Regions from separate parts of the Homo sapiens genome. Here region 1 is linked to region 2. Evidence: fine-mapped expression QTL. Tissue or cell type: whole blood. Region 2 holds a variant in brackets; the other region holds the start of a gene. All regions are shown on one strand. Distances are from middle to middle.

Region 1 (8,333 bases), 33 kb before region 2:
AAACCTCAAGATTACAGTATTCCCAACCACCTTCTCCCATTCCACTCCACCCTATCCCTCTTCCCAAAGCCTGAGAGTAATTAAAACCAAAGAAAATATAAACATGAAAGTTTAGTTGGGAGAAGCAAATGCAAACTTCTAATATAGTATTGTACTCAAAAATGTCATGGAGAACTTGATTAGGAGACACTGAAGAATGTAGTGCTACAATCTTGAAATTTCACAGTTATGACCTTCAGACCATATATGATGTAAGGCTGAGAGACAGAGTTACCACAACACATCCTAAGAGACTGAAAATAGCCGAAAATCAAACTGAATGGAAAATTCCAGGAAGTATACTATATTTAATGGAAGAGAGGTTTATTTCTGTTATTTTGTCTGGGGGACTTTTCTTGAAAAATATGTTTGGATTTTTATGGGCTAAAGAAAATGTTTTAAATGAGGTTTATGTGATTTTTATTTATACCCTGTATTTTTTCGAAGATTTAAGAGATTATAGGTTTATAGAAAATATAACAAAATATTATGAATCATACATAGGAAAAAAGGTAGAGACATAAAATAGAGCCAGGAACAAACTTAATTTTAAACCATGAATTTATATAGTGATTAGGCCTTTAGTTCCTCAAGTTAATTTCTTTTTTTTCTTTTTAATTTTCTGTAGAGACAGGATCTCACCATGTAACCCATGCTGATCTTCTTGAACTCCAAGGCTCAAGGGATCCTCCAGACTTTGCCTCCCAAAGTGTTGGAATTACATGCATGAGCCACCGCACTCAGCCCCTCAAGTAATTTCCAAAAATTATGCAGTGCAAAGAGTTTTATGTATTAGGTATACATTTTTCATAATTTACACAGTATTTTCACATACATTATCTCATTTGATCCTAAATGGACTTTGTTAAGCAGTTATTATCCACATATTCCAAATAAGGAAACTGAAGCCCAGAGAAGAACTTGAAAATCCTGTTCTTCAAGGTGGGAGAATTGCTTGAGGCCAGTAGTTCAAGACCAGCCTGAGTAACAGAGGGAGTCTCCATCTCTCCAAATAATAATAATAATAATAAATGATATAGGCGTGGTGGCATGTGCCTGTGATCCCAGCTACTCAGGAGGCTGAGGCAGGACAATCACCTGAGCCCAGGAAGTCAAGACAGCAGTAAGCCATGACTGGGTCACTGTACTCCAGCCTAGATGACAGAGCAAGACCTCCTCTCAATCAATCAATCAATCAATCAGAACAATATGCATTTGACATCTATGGCCCCTGCATTTTCACGAGAGGATTACTACCTTCTTTACAGATGGCTTTAGATTTGGAGGCTGGCTAAGCATAAAATTAAAAGACGTCATGCTTGGAATAGCCCTTTTAAGAAACACTTAACTCCTTTACTTAATAGACAAGTGCACTGAACCACTCATAATTTTTTAAATTATTTTTATTTTAATAATTATTTTATTTATTAAGACACAAGGTCTCAATCTATAGCCCAAGCTGGAGTGCAGTCGCACCATCCTAGCTCACTGCTGCCTCAAACTGCTTGGCTCAAGCTATCCTCCCTCTTCAGCCTCCCAAGTAGCTGGGACCGCAGGCACAAGCCATCGCAACCTGTGCTCTGAAGCTTTAAGAGGCCAAACGATTCCTCACATTCATCCGATCAGTTACAGGTAGAGCCAAGACCAGAAGCCAGGTATCCTATTTTCCTTATAACACATTGCCTCTATAGCTTTATATCCATTTCTATGATTTTTGTTACATACCCAGTTCTGACCATTTCCTGTCACAATTTCCTTTGTCTACTAAGTAAAGTTCTAAATGCATGGTGACATAACATACAAGGCCCTACATAACCTGGCACAAGAGACCTCTCCAGGTACTCTCCTCCTCTAACAGTGTAGGAATACTCCTGACTCCTAGGATGCCAGGCATTTGTATAACATCCTAATAGAGTTGTGCTGGTGAAGGAAGGCCACATCCCTCTATCTTGTGAGAGTGAAGACTTGAGTTTCTCCATCACCAAGGAAGACTTGGGTGAAGGCACTCAAGTGGGAGGGACAAAATGACATCTGAAAACTGGAGGCCTTGGGCAGGGACCTCCCCTTCCTCAAACTAAAGGTGAATGAACCAAATTTTGCGATTCCAGGTAGCTTTTCATGTCAAATTTTCATGTCAAATTCTTCCGTGCCATCTCTGACCCTTTAGTAAAATCCCCTCCAAATATTCCAGAAAAACCTTGTGAGTTCATATTTGGCAAGGCCATCCAAAGCATGTTAGCAACCCAGCATGATGGTGTCAGTACTAATTACATAATGAGAGGCCCCAAAGAGAAGAGTATTAGGCAACAGGAACGAGGGCCACTAAATCCCAATCGCTTTTCCCCAGCAATGATTCTCCTTCAATATGAGGTTATGGGTTATGAGGATATGAGTTAGTCAATTAGCTTCCTTATGCAACTTCAAATTCCCTGAACAGATCCAGGAATTTTGCACATTCTGTTCCTTGTCCATAAACTTTGGTTCCCCTCCCCAAACTGTTGTTCTTTCGACAAACTCTATACATAATTCATATTCCTGGCTCAGAAATCATAATCTCTAAGTAACCTTTCCTGACACCCTATTCTCCACCTCCTCTTCCATAACCTGTGGTCTTTTTGAACAGAGTGGTGACATTTTGGGCTGGATGACTGAAAAAGCAAAGTAGAAAAACAGAACATAGAACATACAGGGCCTCCAGTTGCTGTGCCTGGCGGTACATGAAACATAGTATTCAATAACTATTCTTTGAATGCACAGTCATTTTGTTTTTTCCTTTAACAGTATTTCCTAATAGGTAACTCATGAACACTGCAAAAAATGTCAAACTGCACAAAAAAATTCAGGGAAAAGTACATTTTCCCCCCAATCCCATTCCCTCCTTTCTCTTAATACCAGTTAGCTTTCCTTTCAGATTGATTATGCATATATGGGTATGTAAATGTTTTCCCACTATTTGTTACACATAAAAATTATATACAATTCATATATTACATATGGTGCATGTTATATACACACACATAAACAGATCATCTCGGTTTTGCTTAACCTAAGTCAGGCTTTTTTTTTTTTTTTTTTTTTAGAGCAGCCCTCAGAACCAGGACAGGTTCAGAGACTTTATTTATTTTTTATTTACTATTATTATTTTGAGACGGAGTCCCGCTCTGTCGCCCAGTCTGGAGTGCCGTGGTTCAATCTCGGCTCACTACAACCTCCACCTCCCAGGTTCAAGTGATTCTCCTGCCTTAGACTCCGAGTAGCTGGGATTACAGGCGAGCACCACCACGCCCGGCTAATGTATTTTTAGTAGAGACGCGGTTTCGCCATGTTGGCCAGGCTGGTCTCGAACTCCTGACCTCAGGTGAGAGCAACGTAGTACTCCACTGTGCGTGCATACCATGATTTACTTTGCAGTCCCAGATTTACGGTTTCCAATTTATAAATACTGCCATTTTCACCTTCAAGCCCCGATGCCAAACACAGAAATACCAGGCCACCCCCACCCCCTCGCCGTGTGCCTCCCACATTTTCACACACATTTTCAGGAGCCCAGGGCGCAGCCTCACACCGAACGCCGCCTCTGCCGTCCCCTCACTTGCCCCGTGCCCCCACCGCAGGGCTGAAGGCGACGGAACCGAGCCTTTGTACCCCCACCAGCCCCGTTCCCTGGCGTCTCCCGGCCGCCGGGCTCGCCCGCTCAAACGTGGCGGAACAACCGGAGCCGGGCCCCGCCCTGCTGGAAGACAGGGCGGACCGGGCAAGGCAGGCGCGGGGCGGGGCGGGGCGGGGCTCCGGCTGGCGGGGCGCGGCCAGCGTGCAGGGCTGGGCCAGCGTGCGGGGCTCCTCCCCTTTCCTCCGGCGGCGCCGGCGGCCGCAGAACTTCCGGGTCGGCGCGGAGGCGGGGCGGAGGCGCCGCGGCGGCTGTTATTGTTCGGCTGGGCTCGGTCGGGCGCTGTCTCCCTCGGCTCTGCGGGTGTCAGTTCGTCCGGCTTCCTCACAGCCCCTCACTCCCGGCGGCTGACAGCAGCAGCGGCGGCGGCGGGCGGCGCCTGGCGTTTCGAGGCTGAGCGGCACCGGGGTTGGGGCGCGGAGGAGGAGCAGCAGCGGGAGGAGGAGCCGTGTGCCCTGGCACTGAGCGGCCGCGGCCATGGCGTACGCCTATCTCTTCAAGTACATCATAATCGGCGACACAGGTGAGGGCCCCGGGCGCGGCCGGGCGGGTGTCGGCGGCCTCCGGACCCGGGCTGAGGGGCAAACGGCGTCTGGCGGTGGCGGGGACGCGGACTCCACCCGGCGCCTCCCTCCTGGCCGCGCCGCTCCATTTCCGCAGTGCTGGAGCTGGTGACGTGGGCACTGCGAGCGGCCGCGGCCTGGCCAGGCCCGGTCTGCGGCCCCCGACCCGGCCAGTCTTGCAGCTGAGGGCCGTGGCAGCCGTTTGCGACGCCCGATTCAGGAAGTGTGTGACAGGAGGGGAGGCCTAGCGCAGGGCCGCCGGGGCCCGACTCACATGACTGCACCCCACCCCCAGGGCCCCTTGCGTTAGGTCTCTTCGCGGCCCCAGGAAAAAGAAGGAGGGAAACCTAGGGGAGCAGAAGGTGTTGGGGCCCGGGTCTTGGTTCCTGACCAGTCCAACCTTCCTCCACCAGCACGCATCTATCAAGGCCTGGGCAAGGCGCTTTTTGGCGTGGGACAGGCAGCCGAGAAAGAGAAAAGGAAACCTTTAAAATATGTATTTTATATATATACATATATATAAAATATGCTTTTTTAACACCTTCAACTCTCACGTCAGAATAAGTCACATCTCATTACTTGACGGCTGGAGAATCCCTTTCGGGGTTAGGAAAGCATGAACGAGTTCTGTGGACTTTTGCCACGTGTGAACTGGGGTTATATAGTAATGTAAAGTCGTTCAGTGCTCTGGGTGTGTACTTAGGTATGTGTATGTTGAGGACGCTGATGTTTTAGATATGTCAAGTCCGGTGTCACAACTGCTAATTTTCAGGTGAGCTCATGTCCATGAGCTGAAAGAAATTCAGTTATTCTCACTTAAAATGACGTCCTAGTATATTTCACAGAAAAGTAAACAGACTCTTCGTAGATATTTTTAATACCTGTGATTTGGCATTACTTTGAATCTAATAATAAACATAAAGATTGTTTAGATGTTGCAACTATTAATATACCAGAGTCTGATTTCAGTGGTTACTCTTGCACAACTTTGGACCCTTTGCACAACTTCGGTCATGTAAGCAGCAGTTTGTAGTTGAACTAATGATGTGGCAGGTTCTATAAGTAACTAAAGAAGCATGTTGGCCGGACGCGGTGGCTCACACCTGTAATCCCAGCACTTTCGGAGGCCGAGGTGGGGGATCACCTGAGATCAGGAGTTCGAGACCTGCTTGGCCAACGTGGTGAAACCCCGTCTCTACTAAAAGTACAAAAGTTAGCCGGGCGTCGTGGCAGGCGCCTGTAATCCCAGCCACTTGGGAGGCTGAGGCGGGAGGATCACTTGAGCCCGGAAGGTGGAGTTTGCAAAAAAAAAAAAAAAAAAAAAAAAAAAGCATATTTATTGCTGCCTGAAAGAAAAAATTTCTGCTAGATACATGAGTTTTCAGCAAGGTTTTCTGATGCGTGCGTGCGTGTGTGTGTGTGTGGAAATTGGATTTGTAAACTTTAAAAGAAAAATGCTGTGGTGTATTTGGAAGAAGGAGAATTCTAAAGTCTTCTGGCAAAATTTCATTTAGGCTGTAAAAACAAGATTGGAGAGGAATGCCACATTAACTGTAATATGAGTGGGTTTGAGAAATAGAAGCTTGTGACTGTGGCATTTGGCTATCTCATTAGTGGTGAAAATTCAAATCAGACTTTGCTGGTTGCCTTTTTTCAGTTTTTTATTTGAGGCTGTACTGTGGATAAATAAAGTATTGTGCATGGAGTAGTGGGGCTACAAATCCTAACAAGTTAATGCTCTGTTCTCTTGGAATTTGCTCTTATCCAAAAGCAGTCCCCACGCAATTCAAAGGGAAGACACTTCTTTCTTGTCATTGCTGCTGATACGACCTAGTTCAGGAACAGAATTCTTGACACTGTTATAGTCTGCAGCAGTACTTCTCCCTACTCCAGTTCAGCCAGTGTAGTTTACTGTCAGTTTAGTCATCCTGAAGCATGAATGTCAAAAGGCTACTCCTGTTTGCTCACAATTTTTAGTTTGACCTTCAGTGAACTCTATATTTTAGCCCCTATCTACATTTCTCGCCTTCTTTCCCGCTATTCCCCACCTTGCTTCTGCCATTGAGTCCCAGTGACTGATTTTGGTGTTTTTTTCCTGGGCACTGCTAGTCTCTATTCTTAGAGTGCTTTCCGGCACAATCTCTCCCTGTGGAAGATCCATCAGTCCTTCAAAGTCTTATCTGAGTTTTCCGTAATGCCTTCACAGTCAACATATATTAAGCTCTTATTGTGTGAAGATTTTCACAGTATCCTGGCTGAAAGTGACTACTCCGTTTCTGAATTTATGTTTCTCACTTTGTGTCATTCTTCTGATATTGATCCCAGACTTTTCTGTTGTATAGATACTTGTATAGGCACCTCTATTATGTAGGTACCTATTATATACTTCTTGAAGTCAGAAAAGATGTTTTGTATGGCTCTGTATTTCTTTCAGGAAGAGCGTAGTAGAAGGTAGGCCCTGTATATTTAACTAATAAGAGAGGAGCCAAACAGGCTACTATATTCCTGTTTGTATATATTAATAACTTAACAGAAGTGGTGTCGTTGTTGTTGTTGTTGTTGCCCAGTTCTGCCACCTTCTTGCTTACTAATTTGGGCAAAATCCTTTACCATATTTCTTTAATGCAGAGTGTACCCATAGTTGTAAGATACACTCAGTGTGGCCCTCCCCTAGAAAAGATGACTTTAAAATCAGTAATGTGAGATCCACTTTGATTTTTTAAAAAGTCAGGGTCAAAAACATGCATCTTAGAATGAAGGAAATCACCTAATTTTTCTGTTTCCCTGTTTCCGTAACCTATAACCTTCTCTCAGTATGTGGGATAAAATGAGGATAAATGTGAAAGTACTTTGATTTCTCAAAGGAAAGGAACAATGCACATTTTTCCTTTTCAGAATTCCCTCTTTAATAGAAGAGGTTTTAAAAACTTTTACATGATCATGATGATACTATTGAGCTGTTTTCTTACTGTAAGACTAAATGCAGTTAAAATGTAGCTTTAAATTTTTTCCTTGTTCCTGTCTTGTTTCTGAATCATTTAGTAAAATGTGTCATTTAAATCTAGATGTAAAGTGGAAAGTGGTTTTTAATAAGCAGTTAATTATCAAGCATGGAGAGAAAAAATACGAATCTATAGTAATTTTTCTTCTGAAATTCTAGCATCTGCCAACCATTTTAACCTTATCACTAACCCTCCCTGCTGCTCAACGCTCAGCAAGGTAAACAAAGGCACAGGTTTGGTTGTGTTCTTATTTCTGCTAATATCTGAAGCACTCCTTCTTGTTCTTCCCTATCAAAAAAAGTTATGTCAAAAATTTTTGTCACCTGGCCAACTCCTTTTTATCCATTCTTTTGAGAGTTTAACAAATCCTACCACTCCCTGTTGCATTTTATGCTGGTCCCCTCCTCTCTTCCCTCATTCTGTTTCCCTTCTCTTCAGTCCCAGTCCCACTTACATTTTATTTTTTATTTTTCACTCTTATGTATATACCCACCACTTCCATTTTATTTTATTTTACTTATATTATTTATCTATCTATTGAGACATGATCTCTGTTGCCCAGGCAGGAGTGCAGTGGCACTATCACGGCTCACTCACTACAGCTTCAGTCTCCTGGGCCTAAGCAATCCTCCCACCTAAGTCTTCCAAGTAGCTGGGAACACAGGCACATGCCACCATGCCTGGCTAATTTTTAAATTTTTGTAGAGATGGGCTCTCACTGTGTTGCTCAGGCTGGTCTCAAACTCCTGGGCTTAAGCCATCCTCCCACTTCAGCCTCCCAAAGTGCCAGATTACAAGCACAAGCCACAGCTCTCAGCCCCACTTGCATTTTAAATTATCTTTTTAGTTAGGAAGGTCTTTGCCTTTGTCTTAGATGCCAGGGTACACCATTGAGTGTCAGATTTATTTAATAGTTAAGTGGATGGATCCTTGAGGGGAGGCACTAGGTGATGTTTCAGCTGAAATTAGAATGATGAGTAGGCACCGCCAGAGTGGGCATGGGGGAATGTCTGGTATGTAGTTGAAAGTTTATTTCTGGCTCAGGAGAGAGTAATCTGGGAT
Region 2 (8,333 bases):
CAGCTCTCACAATGGTGTCCTACTGAGGGACAGTGACTCCGACCCTGAGTAAAGGAAGAAGGTAAGGTATTGGTAGCAACTCTAATAGCAGCATTAATAAGTGTAGTGATTTGTATTAATTACAGAGTGGTAATGATCTGTGTATATCCAAGATATCCACACCAGGCCTTAAAAAACAATGTTTTGCACATCATTAAACAAATATTCATTAAACAAATTCATTATTCATTAAACAAATATTCATTATTCATTAAATTATTAAATTATTCATTTTTCATTAAATATTTCATGAATACTAGCTCAACAGATCATTCTAGGTGCTTTGGAGGATGAAAAGATGAATAGGAATACAGATCTTGCCCTGAAAGAACTTTGTTTATAAATGTTGTAAAAACAGGCATTTAAATAACTGTAGTGTAAGATAAAAGTTAGTACATAGTAATTGTCATTTCAGAGATAACATATTCTGAAGTCCATTAAGGGAAAGATCACATCCAGAGAAATACTAGAAGAGGTGGAGGGTGTGCATGGCTTTCTGTTTGTTTAGGAAAACAAGTAAATAACTCTCCAAAGTCTCAGGGTAATTCTTTGTGTTGGACTTTTTCTTTTTTCTTAAGCCTTCTCAAACCTATCAGGTTTAAGATTCTAGTTAGTGATATTTCCTACTTGCGATAGCTGAGAAAATTTGAGGTGCAAGACTTGACCAACCTTCTCTTGAGTGTGTTCGAGGATGGGAGACTTGAATGCATGTGTCAAAAGATGTCCATGGAGAAGCAGGTAATAAAGATGCAAGAAAAACGAGTTGCTAGATCTCCAAACAGGGAGAGAGGGCTGAGATCTAGTTTTGGTTGGTAAAGGAATATAGTACTTCTCTAGCATTAAAGAAAGGATAAACTACATGGACATCTAGAGGAAACTTCAAGTGAAGAAGTGATCCATGTTGGATTTTTGTCTTTGTTTGTTTAATTAAATAATAATACTGTTAAGTTTTTACATAGTGCTTCCTACATGTTTTCAGTGCTTTATATAGGTTAACTGGTTTAATTCTCACAACTCTTGTTGTGAAGTATGTATTGTTCTTATCCTCATTTTGAAAATGATTGCGTGCAAAGGCCAAGTAGTTTTTCCAAAATCACCCAGGTAGTGCTTTTAACCACTACACAATGCTGACAGTTCAATCAGCATCTCTGGAGGTGTGAGGCCTGAGCATCAGTTTGGGTTGCTTTTTGTTTTTGTTTTTTGGGTCTTTTTTTTTTTTTTTTTTTTTTTTATTGATCATTCTTGGGTGTTTCTCGCAGAGGGGGATTTGGCAGGGTCACAGGACAATAGTGGAGGGAAGGTCAGCAGATAAACAAGTGAACAAAGGTCTCTGGTTTTCCTAGGCAGAGGACCCTGCGGCCTTCCGCAGTGTTTGTGTCCCTGGGTACTTGAGATTAGGGAGTGGTGATGACTCTTAAGGAGCATGCTGCCTTCAAGCATCTGTTTAACAAAGCACATCTTGCACCGCCCTTAATCCATTCAACCCTGAGTGGATACAGCACATGTTTCAGAGAACACAGGGTTGGGGGTAAGGTCACCGATCAACAGGATCCCAAGGCAGAAGAATTTTTCTTAGTACAGAACAAAAGGAAAAGTCTCCCCTGTCTACCTCTTTCTACACAGACATGGCAACCATCCGATTTCTCAATCTTTTCCCCACCTTTCCCCCCTTTCTATTCCACAAAACCGCCATTGTCATCATGGCCCGTTCTCAATGAGCTGTTGGCTATACCTCCCAGACGGGGTGGTGGCCGGGCAGAGGGGCTCCTCACTTCCCAGTAGGCGCGGCCGGGCAGAGGCGCCCCTCACCTCCCGGACAGGGCAGCTGGCCGGACGGGGGGCTGACTCCCCCCACCTCCCTCCTGGATGGGGCGGCTGGCTGGGCAGAGGGGCTCCTCACTTCCCAGTAGGGGCGGCCGGGCAGAGGCGCCCCTCACCTCCCGGACGGGGCGGCTGGCCAGGCGGGGGGCTGACCCCCCCACCTCCCTCCCGGACGGGGCGGCTGGCCGGGCGGGGGGGCTGACCCCCCCACCTCCCTCCCGGACGGGGCGGCTGGCCAGGCAGAGTGGCTCCTCACTTCCCAGCAGGGGCGGCCGGGCAGAGGCGCCCCTCACTTCCCGGATGGGGCGGCTGGCCGGGCGGGGGGCTGACCCCCCCACCTCCCTCCTGGACGGGGCGGCTGGCCGGGCGGGGGGCTGACCCCCCTACCTCCCTCCCGGACGGGGCGGCTGGCCGGGCAGAGTGGCTCCTCACTTCCCAGTAGGGGCGGCCGGGCAGAGGCGCCCCTCACTTCCCGGACGGGGCGGCTGGCCGGGCGGGGGGCTGACCCCCCCACCTCCCTCCCGGACGGGGCGGCTGGCCGGGCAGAGTGGCTCCTCACTTCCCAGCAGGGGCGGCCGGGCAGAGGCGCCCCTCACTTCCCGGATGGGGCGGCTGGCCGGGCGGGGGGCTGATCCCCCCACCTCCCTCCCGGACGGGGCGGCTGGCCAGGCAGAGTGGCTCCTCACTTCCCAGTAGGGGCGGCCGGGCAGAGGCGCCCCTCACTTCCCGGACGGGGCGGCTGGCCGGGCGGGGGGCTGACCCCCCCACCTCCCTCCCGGACGGGGCGGCTGGCCGGGCAGAGTGGCTCCTCACTTCCCAGCAGGGGCGGCCGGGCAGAGGCGCCCCTCACTTCCCGGATGGGGCGGCTGGCCGGGCGGGGGGCTGATCCCCCCACCTCCCTCCCGGACGGGGCGGCTGGCCGGGCAGAGTGGCTCCTCACTTCCCAGTAGGGGCGGCCGGGCAGAGGCGCCCCTCACTTCCCGGACGGGGCGGCTGGCCGGGCGGGGGGCTGACCCCCCCACCTCCCTCCCGGACGGGGCGGCTGGCCGGGCAGAGGGGATCCTCACTTCCCAGCAGGGGCGGCCAGGCAGAGGCGCCCCTCACTTCCCGGATGGGGCGGCTGGCCGAGCGGGGGGCTGACCCCCCCACCTCCCTCCCGGACGGAGTGGCTGGCCGGGCAGAGGGGCTCCTCACTTCCCAGTAGGGGCAGCCGGGCAGAGGCACCCCTCACCTGCCGGATGGGGCGGCTGGCCGGGCGGGGGGCTGATCCCCCCACCTCCCTCCCAGACGGGGCGGCTGGCCGGGCGGGGGGCTGACCCCCCCACCTCCCTCCCGGACGAGGTGGCTGCCGGGCAGAGACGCTCCTCACTTCTCAGACAGGGTGGCTGCCGGGCAGAGGGGCTCCTCACTTCTCAGACAGGGCAGTTGCCAGGCAGAGGGTCTCCTCACTTCTCAGACGGGGCGGCAGGGCAGAGACGCTCCTCACATCCCGGACGGGGCGGCAGGGCAGAGGTGCTCCCCACATCTCAGACGATGGGCGGCCGGGCAGAGACGCTCCTCACTTCCCAGATGTGATGGCGGCCGGGAAGAGGCGCTCCTCACTTCCTAGATGGGATGGCGGCCGGGCAGAGACGCTCCTCACTTTCCAGACTGGGCAGCCAGGCAGAGGGGCTCCTCACATCCCAGACGATGGGCGGCCAGGCGGAGACGCTCCTCACTTCCCAGACGGGGTGGCGGCCGGGCAGAGGCTGCAATCTTGGCACTTTGGGAGGCCAAGGCAGGCTGCTGGGAGGTGGAGGTTGTAGCGAGCCGAGATCACGCCACTGCACTCCAGCCTGGGCACCATTGAGCACTGAGTGAACGAGACTCCGTCTGCAATCCCAGCACCTCGGGAGGCCGAGGCTGGCGGATCACTCGCGGTTAGGAGCTGGAGACCAGCCCGGCCAACACAGCGAAACCCCGTCTCCACCAACCTTTTTTTTTTTTTTTTTGGTGTGGATTGAAAACTACTAATGGATAGAAAATGATTGGGGATTGGAGCTACTTCACATGGAATGGCAAAGGACGGCATCTGTAATGTGGAGTGTCTGTCTACGTGGAGAGAAAGGGGGAGGATGTGCACAGGCCTTGTTCTTGGTGCAGAATGAAAGCCATTGGCAGGAGATAGTTTTTTCCCCCCATTTCAAATTGGGTTTTTATCAGAGATCCCAGCATAAATTTTTTTAAAAGAGTAGATAGTTGCTTTTTCTTTAATTTTCCATTTCTGTTGGAAAAGTAGCAACAATAACAAAAATAACTGTTTATAGGGGATTCCTTTCTAGAAGTTGTTTTTTGGTAAAGATTTAAATCCAGGCTTTCTATTCGTCCTCCTTTTGAAAAAAAAAAAAAGTTTTGGAATTTGCCAGCCTTTACTCAAAAGCCATTTTTGTTTGTTCTCATTCTGTTTAATTCTGTGATTAAATAACAAACATGGGCT[A/G]TGTCTCAGTCTTTTTTTTGCTGATTCCTCTTTACATGTGGCTTATCTTCATCCTGAATGTCTTTCTTGAAATCTGTACTCACATATTCACTTGTCTACTCAGCTTTGTCTCTTGGGTGACTAATAGACATCTCAACTCAAAATAACCAAACTGGAACTGATGATCTGTCCACTCTCAATCTGCTCTACCTACATCTCCCATCTCACTGAACTTTCTGTTTGATCAGGCAAAACATTGGATCATTCTTAACACACTTCTCTTTCTCAAAAAATTCACACTGTCAACACATTCTCTTGGCTCTGCCTCACAAATTCAATTTGAACTACCCCCAATGCAACCACCCTGGTCCAAGTCACCATTTCTAGCCTTATTGAGAAAGCTCCTTACTGGTTCACGGTTTTTTTTGTCTTTTTTTTTTTTGAGGCAGGGTCTCACTCCATCATCCAGGCTGAAGTGCAGTGGTGTGATCTCGGCTCGCTGCAACCTCCACCTCCCAGGTTCAAGCGATCCTCCCACCTCAGCCCCCATGTAACTGGGACTAAGGTGTGCACCACCATGCCTGGCTAAGTTTTTTGTATTTTTTTTGTAGAGACAGGGTTTCACCATGTAGTCCAGGCTGGTCTTGAACTCCTGGGCTCAAGTAGTCCACCTACCTTGGCCTCCCAAAGTGCTAGGGAAGGCATGAGCCACCACACCTGCCTTCTTTGCTTCTACTCTCATCTGCTTCTACTTGTAAGTTCTCATTGTAGCAGCCAGTAGGCCTTTTGGAATTTAAGTAAAATTATATTACTTCTCTGCTGAAAACTCTCCAGTGAATCCCCTATTTTATCTCAATAAACTTACAGAGTTCTTTAGGTTCTGTGTGATTAGGCCCCTGTCATTCCTATATCCTAGTTCCTAGGGGCATGACTCTCCCTGCCTCCTGTGCTTTAGCCACATTGGCCTCATTGCAGTTTCTCTAAAATGTGCCACCTTAGAACTTTTCTTCTTAACTGTTTCCTTGGTGTGGAATAATACTCTTCTCTCAGTGATCCACTGGCCTATTTCCTCACCTCCTTTAAACCTTCATTTAAATCTCACCTTCTCCATGAGGGACTACCTGGTTAAATAACACATCTTCCTCCTTCCCTCCACCCCAGCGTTTCAGGTCCTACATCCTTGCCCTGCTCTGCTTTTTCTTTTTACCATAGCATTTAACACCCTGCAACTGATTCTATTTCTCTCCCTCTTCTGTATACATGTACACATTTGTGCACACATGTTGGGAAAAAACAAGTTTATAGTCTTTCATCCCATTCCACAAGTTTGTGAGCCTTTGTCTTTGCACTGGAGATACATGTGGCTAATGCTGAAAATGAATGGATCATGGTTCATGCTTTTAGGGAGCTTAAAGTGTAAACAGACATAGTAATAGTGTTTTACTATTGATGGTAGCAACAAACATTTGTTGAATTCTTTTTTGAAACTTTACTATGTGCCAGACACTGTTTTAAGACTTACAGTGGATTAACTTATTTAATGTTCTCAAGTATCCTATTAGATAGGTGTTATTAACCTACTTCTTACAGGTTAGGAAACTGAGGCACTAAAAAGATAACTACAGATGGTCTCTGTCTTTTGATGGTTTGACTTAGCAATTTTTCAACTTTACAGTGGTGCAAAAGTGACATTCAGTAGAAACTGTATTTCAGATTTTGATCTTTTATTTTTACTATTTTTATTTTATTTTAGAGACAGGGTCTTGCTTGTCACTCAGGCTCGAATACAATGGCTCAGTCATAGCTCACTGCAACCTCAAACTCCTAGGTTCAAGCAATCCTCTGTCCTTAGCCTCTTGAGTAGCTAGGACTACAAGATGTGCTACCATGCCTTGATTTTTTTTTTTTTTTTTTTTTTTTGGAGACAGAGCCTTGCTGTGTCGCCCAGACTGGAGTTCAGTGGCACGATCTCGGCTCACTGCAGCTTCCACTTCTCGGGTTTAAGCAATTCTCATGCCTCAGCCTCTTGAGTAGCTGGGAGTTTTTTTTTTTTTTTTTTTAAGATGGAGTTTCGCTTTTGTTGCCCAGGCTGGCACGCAGTGGCGCAATTTCGGCTCACTGCAACCTCCGCCTACTGGGTTCAAGCGATTCTCCTGCCTCAGCCTCCTAGTAACTGGGATTACAGGTGCCTGCCACCACATCCAGCTACTTTCTGTATTTTTAGTAGAGATAGGGTTTCACCATGTTGGCCAGGCTGGTCTTGAACTCCTGACCTCGTGATCCACCCGCCTCGGCCTCTCAAAGTGCTGGGATTACAGGTATGAGCCACCACGCCCGGCCTAATTTTTAAATTTTTTTATACCTATGGGGTCTCACTATGTTACCCAGGCTGGTCTAGAACTCCTGGCCTCAAGTGATCCTCCTGCCTCAGCCTCCTAAAGTGCTGGGATTACAGGTGTGAGCCACCATGCTCAGTGACCTATCACTTTTATAAGTTATAGGGAAAAAAATTCTCTATATTTTCTTCGTATTACTATACTTTGTGATATGATGGATTCATTGTTTTACATTTCTAAACAGATACTCAGATGTTAAATTTATCCATGAAAAGAAAACGTTATTAAAATTTTAAAGCTCTAAATAATAAATCATCAAGGCCAATTAGTAGAGTTAGAAAGAAACTTGATGATTGTCTGGCTCAATTCTCTGATTCTCTGTACATATAGTAAAATTATGTCCAAAAAGATGAAATAATATATGGAAAGTTACACAGTTGGTTAAACCCCTCCCATCTTCTAAAGGTAGTGAGGAAAATTCAGAATTAGCTGTATATGCAAATTTTCTCTCTCTTATCAGTCAACAATTTAGACAAGTTTTCTAGTAAGAAGGGTATGAGGACAGACAGAGGCTTGCTTTGTACCTGCTGTGTGCTAGGGACACACTCTTGCAAGTGATTTCTGTCCTAATAGAGCTGGGGGTCACGTTCTGTTATGGGAGAGCCTATAAAGCATGATACAATTAATAAAAATAATAGCTTTATTTGAGGGCCTTCCTGTTCTACACACTGTGCTTTTTGAGAGGTGATGGTTGTTTGTGAGATTCAGTATCTGGGATAATAAGATAGGCGTTGAAAAAAGAAAAAGGGAAAAAAGTCAGCATCCAACTGGAGAAGCAGAACCAGCAGGATATATGTGTGCATGTGATTAGATAGATAGAGATGGGAGTTGAAATTGAAATTGATTGTTTATTTGGTTTATGTGATTTTGGGGGCTGGACAAGCAAGTCTGAAATCCTCAGGACAGGCTGTAACCCACAGGTATGGCTAAAGTTGCTGTCCACAGGTGGAATTATTTCTTCTCTCTAGGAAGCCCCTGTCGCACTTAAAGTCAGCTGATTATGGATTTTTATTACTTGTATGATGCCTTCACAGCAACGCCTAGATTAGTGTTTGATTGCATAACTAGGGTAGGGCCTAGCCAAACTGATGCATCAAAAAGACCGTCATTTTGTTTTCATTTTTATTGAAGTATATTATGCACACAGAAAAATGCATATATACTAAGTGTATAGCTCAAATAATTGTTATAAACTGGACACACTCAGGTAACCAGTACTGTACAGGGTCCCTTTTGTATCTATATATTTAATTTGCTTCTTATAACAGTTCATTGAGGTGTAGAGATTTCCTCCATTTTATAGATAAGGATTCTAAGGCTCAGAAAGGTCAAGTACCCTGTGTTACAGCTAATAAGTGACAGAGCTGGGATTCTAATCAGGGTTTTGAGGCATATATAAAGTATTATGGGAGCCCAAGGCTGAAATTGATTCATTCATTGGCGTATATGATTGTGGGGGCTAAACCATTAGTTTTGCTTGGGGATTGGTAGAATCTTTGGAACAGGAATGTTCTACCAAAGAGGGTATATGAAGCTTTGAGTTGTCTTAAAGCATGAATTTAAATTTGCCAGGGAGTGAAAAGTTCCTTTATAAAAGGTACCAGCAAAAAGATATGATATCA

Evidence for each region.
Region 1: RAB2A starts here. The variant in region 2 is fine-mapped to the expression of RAB2A in whole blood (INTERVAL, PIP above 0.99).

What each region holds. Positions count from the first base shown.
Region 1 is chr8:60,513,025-60,521,357 of GRCh38, forward strand. It overlaps RAB2A (RAB2A, member RAS oncogene family), which reads left to right and starts at 3,963. Exons shown (of 8, transcript NM_002865.3): 1 at 3,963-4,229. The coding sequence starts at 4,184. It overlaps LOC124901949 (a long non-coding RNA gene), which reads left to right. Exons shown (of 3, transcript XR_007060922.1): 3 at 668-3,774. RefSeq lists enhancers at 3,111-3,971, 5,207-5,396 and a silencer at 3,547-4,416.
Region 2 is chr8:60,545,646-60,553,978 of GRCh38, forward strand. The region is part of intron 1 of RAB2A (RAB2A, member RAS oncogene family); the gene reads left to right. Among named protein-coding and RNA genes, the nearest start is that of RAB2A, 33 kb to the left of the region's middle. The variant A/G (reference allele first, on the strand shown) is at 4,337.